Homo sapiens: one gene and its partner. The protein of the gene in region 1 purifies or fractionates together with the protein of each later gene. This does not show direct contact. Each region holds a gene or a part of one and is shown on either strand. Other genes may lie near its edges.

Region 1 (3,926 bases):
GGCCTAATTCCTATAATGGGAGCCACCCAGGAGCATAGGTTCACACCCAAGGACCTCCCAGGCCCTCCCCCATCTTCTCTAAGGGAACTGCAGAGCCAGGCCCTGCCTGACCCCAGAAACAAGACTAGTTTCCCAGGAAAAGATCCTAGGGCAGGAGTGGAGCAAGTGACAGCTTGTTTTTTATTTTATTTTTATTTTATATTTTTTGAGACAGGGTCTTGCTCTGTCACCCAGGCTGGAGTGCAGTGGTGCGATCTCAGCCCACTGCAACCTCTGCCTCCTGGGCTCAATTGATCCTCCCACCTCAGCCACCCGAGTACCTGGGACTACAGGTATCTGCTACTACGCCTGGCTAATTTTTGTGTATTTTTTGTAGAGACAGGGTTTTACCATGTTGCCCAGATTGGTCTCGAACTCCTGGGTTCAAGCGATCCATGCGCCTCAGCCTCCAAAAGTGCTGGGATTACAGGTGTGAGCCACCACTCCCAGACGTGACAGCCTGTTAATAGCAATAATAGCACTTTGAATATACCAGACACTGCTTTTCCACAACTTTTTGAGACATGTTTTGTTAGCAACTCCATTTTACAGATGAAAAAACAGAGGCTCAGGGTGGTAAGTGGCATGCCGAAGGTAGTGGCAGAGCCTAGGTGCTCCAACCCAGGCAGCTGGGCTCAGCCCACTCCGATCCTCTCCAGCTGCCTCTCTGTTACAGCGCAGAACATCAGCAGCATCAGGAGTCATGTGCTCTTCCAGCTCTGCCTTGAGTACCCGATGACCTCGTTTCCTCAGCGGTAGATAGCGATGGTTAATATTGGCTAGCCTGTAGAGTTATCGGGAGACCAACGCACAAAAAGGGTTTAATACCGTGCCCAGCACATAGTAAGTGGTCAATACATGTTAATTGTTGATATTCTTGTTATCTGTGGTGTGTCTGGGCCGGGAGGGAGGGCTGCAGGGCGGTGTCTACGCACACTTTACAGGTGAGGTCATCCCGCGGGCTGGGGGTGCCGGGCCCCTCGCTGGCCCACGCCCAGCCAGGTGCACCCGCGGCGAGAGTCCGGTGGCCTCAGGTCACAGGCCCCTCCCCGCCGGACATTTAAGGAGGGACGCCGGGCGCAGGCGCAGACAGCGCAAGCCCCACGCCACGCGTCGCTGGTCCCAGGCAGCGAGTCGCTCGCGCGCCCCGCCGCCCGCCTGGCGACAGCTCCGCCGCGCACGCACATGGAGGGGAGCGCGAGCCCCCCGGAAAAGCCCCGCGCCCGCCCTGCGGCTGCCGTGCTGTGCCGGGGCCCGGTAGAGCCGCTGGTCTTCCTGGCCAACTTTGCCTTGGTCCTGCAGGGCCCGCTCACCACGCAGTATCTGTGGCACCGCTTCAGCGCCGACCTCGGCTACAATGGCACCCGCCAAAGGGGGGGCTGCAGCAACCGCAGCGCGGACCCCACCATGCAGGTAGCGGGGCGGCGAGGAGCCTGGCAGGTGGAGGGCCCTGGTCTGGAGCGTGGGGGCAGCGGAGGGGCGGGGCCTGCGTAATGGTAGTGGCGGGTAACTGGAGGGAGGGTGCATTTTGGATGGTGGGCGGGACCAGAGCAAAGGGGCCTGACCGAGAACCTCAGCGGGTGGGATGCGAAAAGCTGAGCTAAAGTCTGGCCTTGCAGGTTAACAAAAGGGGGGGGAAAGGAAAGGGAATGGGGCCTTGGTCCATGTCCTTCCCCCTCTCCACTGGCAGATTTTGAAAGCTGTGCTAAGATTCTCTGAGGTTTAGGGCTCCAAAGGAAGTCCTCATCCCTGTAGCTCCCGGGATGGCGAGGATTTGGGGATTGTGGAACCCAGAGTGAGGAACCGCACCCTGGTCATTGTGCCCCTACAGGAAGTGGAGACCCTTACCTCCCACTGGACCCTCTACATGAACGTGGGCGGCTTCCTGGTGGGGCTCTTCTCGTCCACCCTGCTGGGAGCTTGGAGCGACAGTGTGGGCCGCCGCCCGCTGCTAGTGCTGGCCTCGCTGGGCCTGCTGCTCCAGGCCCTAGTGTCCGTTTTTGTGGTGCAGCTGCAGCTCCACGTCGGCTACTTCGTGCTGGGTCGCATCCTTTGTGCCCTCCTCGGCGACTTCGGTGGCCTTCTGGCTGCTAGCTTTGCGTCCGTGGCAGATGTCAGCTCCAGTCGCAGCCGCACCTTCCGGATGGCCCTGCTGGAAGCCAGCATCGGGGTGGCTGGGATGCTGGCAAGCCTCCTCGGGGGCCACTGGCTCCGGGCCCAGGGTTATGCCAACCCCTTCTGGCTGGCCTTGGCCTTGCTGATAGCCATGACTCTCTATGCAGCTTTCTGCTTTGGTGAGACCTTAAAGGAGCCAAAGTCCACCCGGCTCTTCACGTTCCGTCACCACCGATCCATTGTCCAGCTCTATGTGGCTCCCGCCCCAGAGAAGTCCAGGAAACATTTAGCCCTCTACTCACTGGCCATCTTCGTGGTGATCACTGTGCACTTTGGGGCCCAGGACATCTTAACCCTTTATGAACTAAGCACACCCCTCTGCTGGGACTCCAAACTAATCGGCTATGGTTCTGCAGCTCAGCATCTCCCCTACCTCACCAGCCTGCTGGCCCTGAAGCTCCTGCAGTACTGCCTGGCCGATGCCTGGGTAGCTGAGATCGGCCTGGCCTTCAACATCCTGGGGATGGTGGTCTTTGCCTTTGCCACTATCACGCCTCTCATGTTCACAGGTAAAGTGTGTGGGCTCAGGGACAGCTTGTCCCAGAGGCACTGGGTAAGAACTGGGGGCCGGCCACTCACTGCCCCCAGATGTGGTTCATTCCTGTGTCTTTGGAAACATAGTTATGCCCCCAGCCTGCACTGGAGAACAGACAACTAAGAAATCCCTCAAAAATGCCATCTTTGATACATGGAAAATATAGACCTTCAGTAGCTAAAGTAATTAACCCACTGTTATCAACCATTAATATTGTTAGTAATATAGAGCAAAAGACAAAAGTGTGGCTCATACACTAATTGCTTTACCCCTTGGCCTCCCACCGCCTATTCATATGTTCTTAAACAAAGTCCATGCCATTAATGCCTGGTACTCACTTCTCTGATAAGAATCACAGGACCTACCTCAAATACCCTTAGTCAGCTTCTTTGGGTTTTTTAAAAACCAGTCTTCTCGGACCACAGATATGAAATTCCTGCTTCAGTTCCTCTTCTCCTCTTTCTCCTTCTCCTTTCCCTCCTCACTTCCTCCCCTTCTTTTTTTGATGGGAGAGGGTCAACAGGCCAGTAAATGAGGAAGTTAACTTTTTAAAATTTTTATTTGATTGATGTATTTAGAGACAGGGTCTCGCTTTGTTACCCAGGCTAGAGTGCAGTGGCACGATCATGGCTCACTGCAGCCTCATCCCCCGGGCCCAGATGATCCTCCCACCTTGGCCTCTCTAGTAGCTGGGACCACTGGTGCACATTACCACACCTTGCTAATTTTTGTATTTTTTATAGAGATGGGGTCCTCACCATTTTGCCCAGTCCAGGTCTCTAACTCCTGAGCTCAAGGATCCGCCTGCCTCAGCCTCCCAAAGTGTTGGGATTACAGGCATGAGCCACCGTGCCCGGCTTTAGTTAACTTTTTTTAAAGGGACAGATTTATTTTGATAGAGCCCTAAAATGTGCTGTGTATAGTCAACAATACAATAATCACAGATTTCTTAACTCAACTGCTTGTCTGACAATTAAGCAGAAGGGAACCTTTCCCTCCTGCTGATGGCCCTGGGGGATGCAGAGATGATAAAGATGCTGTCATTGCTCTGGGTCGGGGGGAGGTCTCAACAGAGTGGGATTTGAGGGGCCTGACACTGCTAGGGTCCCTGGATGCCTCATCGTATACCTTCTTTGGAGGATCCACTGTCCTGTAGGAGTTTGCAGTTTTGCTGAGG
Region 2 (3,500 bases), on another chromosome or scaffold:
CCAGCAAAACAAGGAAGTATACCAAGAAAGAGGATACAGAAAATGGCAAATGGAGTGCAGGAGAGGGGGCAGGGAATCCCCGGATGGCAGCTGTGCACAGGCAGAGAGATAACCCAGGCCTGCCACCCCTGGGAGGGATGCCTGCAAGACGATGAAATGCAGATGGGACTTGAGGCCTCTGATCTTGGGAGATTTTGATTGTTAGTGAAGGGTTTAGGGTGGAATCTGGATTCAGGATTCAGAAAACTTAGCAGATAAAAAGGTAAGAGAATGACCTCCAGGGAAAATAAAAAGAAAAGATGTGCATAAAAAGAAAATACAAGCATTCGTTTAAGTTAATTGCATGGCAGAGCTCTGAGCAGCATTTGCGCAGTTAAAAACGTACAGTCAATCTTTAATGTGAATATTGATCTATATTGGGATGATGGCGAGATGGGAAGTTTACATTGCAAGTGATGGAACTGAATGGAAATGGAGTTCAGTCCTCATCTTCCATAGTGAGAAGTCAATACACTTTGCCTAAAATGAAAAATCAAGACACAGCAATACACACATAGTAGCTAGACTTGAAGGAAAGTATCCAAAAACCCTATCAAGAGTTGAAATTGGTGGCCTCTGGGCACTTTCTCTGTTATACGTCTTACAGAATGGTTTGAATTTTTTAAGCAATATGACTGTATAACTTTAATAAAAAACTAAAACTAAATGTAGTATTTTGCAGAAAAGAGTTAACATTAGCAGGCCTGAGACTTAGGCCTGTTCGCAAGGTTGGCCCTTGGCTGGCCTCTGGGAGCTTACATTTTGCAAGGGTACCCACCATTTCCCAGTAAGGATGGCTCACTGCATAAACTCTTAAACAATTGATAAACAATGTGGTTCATGCTGAATGCCTGTGAGTCTGACATTTTGGTACGTGCTAGGCAGAGGGTGCTTATATGACCAGCCCACAATACAAACCCTGGGACTTGAGTCTCTAAGCAGCTTCCCTGGTAGAGAGCCCTTCACACGTGTTGTCACAGCTCACTACTGGGGCATTAAGCTCTACCTCTGACTCCCCTCAGGGAGGAGTCTTGGAAGCTTGCACCCTGTTTCCCCCAACTTCACCCCATGCACCTTTTTCCCTTTGCTGAGTTTGCTCTGTGTCCTTTCTCTGCAATAAATTACAGCCATGAGTGCAACTATTAGGCTGAGTCCTATAAGTCATCCTGGTGATCATCAAACCTAGGGGTGGTCTCAGGGACGCCCAAGATGCAAATATGCTTCGATATTAACCGATGGCAGTTTTCTTTTCCTAGCGTGGAGATTGGTGAAAGCGTGAGAGGGGAAGATGTCTACATCATCCAGAGCGGCTGCGGGGAAATTAACGACAACCTGATGGAACTCCTCATCATGATCAATGCCTGCAAGATTGCGTCATCATCCAGAGTAACTGCCGTGATCCCGTGTTTCCCATACGCCCGACAAGATAAAAAGGACAAGGTAGGAGAGGTGTGTGCCCTAGAAACCTGCTGTGGGCCACTGTCAATGTTGTTTTTCCTCATTTATCCCCTTGATTAGAATTATCTGGAAAATGTTGGCTTTTTCCTTTGATGATCAAGTAAATATGCTTTCTTATTTTGTTTGTTGAAGATTTGGCTTTGAACCTACCCTGACATTAATATTCAAAGAAACAGGTAATGCATATTTTTGCAGGTATTAAAATACCATTATTGTCCTTGTTATAATGAAATTATTGTATGTCTTTGTGGTGGTGGATAGAACTAAATACACACACATACATGCACAAGAGTACAAGTCAAACTAGAGCACATCTGAATCAGATCACTGGATTGTATCAATTTCAGGGTCCTGGCTGTGATACTGTGTTATAGTTTCACAAGACGTTACCACAGGGAACTAGGTAAAAGGTTCACAGGATCTCTGCGTTGTTTCATACAACTGCATGTCTATCTACAATTCCCCCGAAATAAAAAGTTTAATTAAAAAAAAAACCCATGATCTCTTTTTAACCTTTTAAAAAGAACAGAAATAGTATCATTGAATTATGTTTTTCACAACATTAGCATCAGAGGAGGCTCTGTGAGTCTTTAGAAAAAAATTGAAGAAAATGTGGTTGGTCTTTGCCTTTCAGAGCAACAGAGAAATCGGAGGTTGAGAAGAACTTTGAAGGAGATTGTATTAGTTTTCTAAGCTGTCATAAGAAATTACATAAACCGCGTGGCTTAAAAGAGCAGAAATTTTTCCCTCACAGTTTCGGAGGCCCAGAAGTGTGAAATCAAGGAATGGGCAGGGGCACGCTCCCTCTGAAGGCTGTAAGGGAGGCTGCTTCCTCGCTTCTTCCAACTTCTGGTGTCTCCTTGCATTCCTTGGCTGTGGCTACATCACTCTGGTCCCTGCCTCTCTCTTCACCTGGCCTCTTCCCTGTGTCTCTTCTCTGTTTCTTATAAGGACACTGTCATTGGATTTCAGGCCTAACCTAATCCAGAATGAACTCAACTTAATCTTTACCTTGGTTATATTTGCAAAGACCCTATTTCCAAAATGAGGTCACATGCTGAAGTTGTGGGTGGACATGAGTTTTGGGGGGATATTGTTTGACCTACTACAGTGGTCAACTCCCAGCTGTTGTGTGTTCCGTATCTTATGGATAGATAGATGTTCAGCCAGGCTCAGCGAGAATCCTGCCAGTTTTCAAGACACACTGCTGTTCTGTGATTTGGTAACTCAGTGCAAGAAAGGTTTTCCCCAATATGCTGCTTTTTATCTCCATAATTCATTTCTGAAACAACACAGATTTCTGAAGCAGCACACAAGATCCCCTCATATTTGAAAAAAACCCTTTATAAATTTGAATTCATATACCAAAGTCCCCCTGAATTTTAATCCCAGTCTCCTCAAGACATGGTTTCCATTCCCTGTCTTGAAGATGGCCAGTCAGTTAATTTCTCACCTAAAATCTAATTAGAAGGGTCCACATACTTTATCTGTAAATGGCTATATGGTCTGTGTTGCAACTATTCAACTCTGGTTGTACTTCAAAAAGAGCAATAGACAATATGTAAATGAATGGGTATGGCTGTGTTCCAATAAAACTTTATTTATGGACACTGAAATGTGAATTTCATATTATTTTCACATGCCTTGAAATACTATTTTGAATTTTTTTCAACCATTTAAACATGTGAAAGCCATTATTAGCTCACAAGCAGTACCAAAACAAGTGGCTGGTGGCTGGTGGCTAGCTGGATTTGGCCTATAGGCTACAGTTTGCCAACCCCTGTATTAGACCATTGATAGATTGCGTGCGCACGTGTGTGTGTGTGTGTGTGTGTGTGTGTGTGTATGTGTGTGTGTGTTTATGATCTAAACTTGACCTTGGGCAGCCAAAACCTTAGGTCACATACACTGCTGTGAAGCTGTATCCTCCCACTAGCTATTTATACAGACAGCTCCTTTTATTTTAAACTTGATTTAAACTGTATTTTTAGCTGTTAAATTTC

Evidence for each region. Proteins that work in one complex are often made in the same cells at the same time.
Region 2: the proteins of SLC46A1 (region 1) and PRPS2 purify together in Homo sapiens (affinity purification with mass spectrometry; one large-scale study listed by BioGRID and IntAct). This does not show direct contact.

The regions. Positions count from the first base shown.
Region 1 is NC_000017.11:28,403,413-28,407,338, reverse strand, and holds the start of SLC46A1 (proton-coupled folate transporter), read left to right. Parts: upstream 1-1,126; 5' UTR 1,127-1,224; coding exon 1,225-1,452; intron 1,453-1,870; coding exon 1,871-2,723; intron 2,724-3,289; exon of another isoform or gene 3,290-3,926.
Region 2 is NC_000023.11:12,797,912-12,801,411, forward strand, and holds part of PRPS2 (ribose-phosphate pyrophosphokinase 2), read left to right. Parts: intron 1-1,295; coding exon 1,296-1,479; coding exon of another isoform or gene 1,480-1,488; intron 1,489-3,500. UniProt on the Homo sapiens protein: Catalyzes the synthesis of phosphoribosylpyrophosphate (PRPP) that is essential for nucleotide synthesis.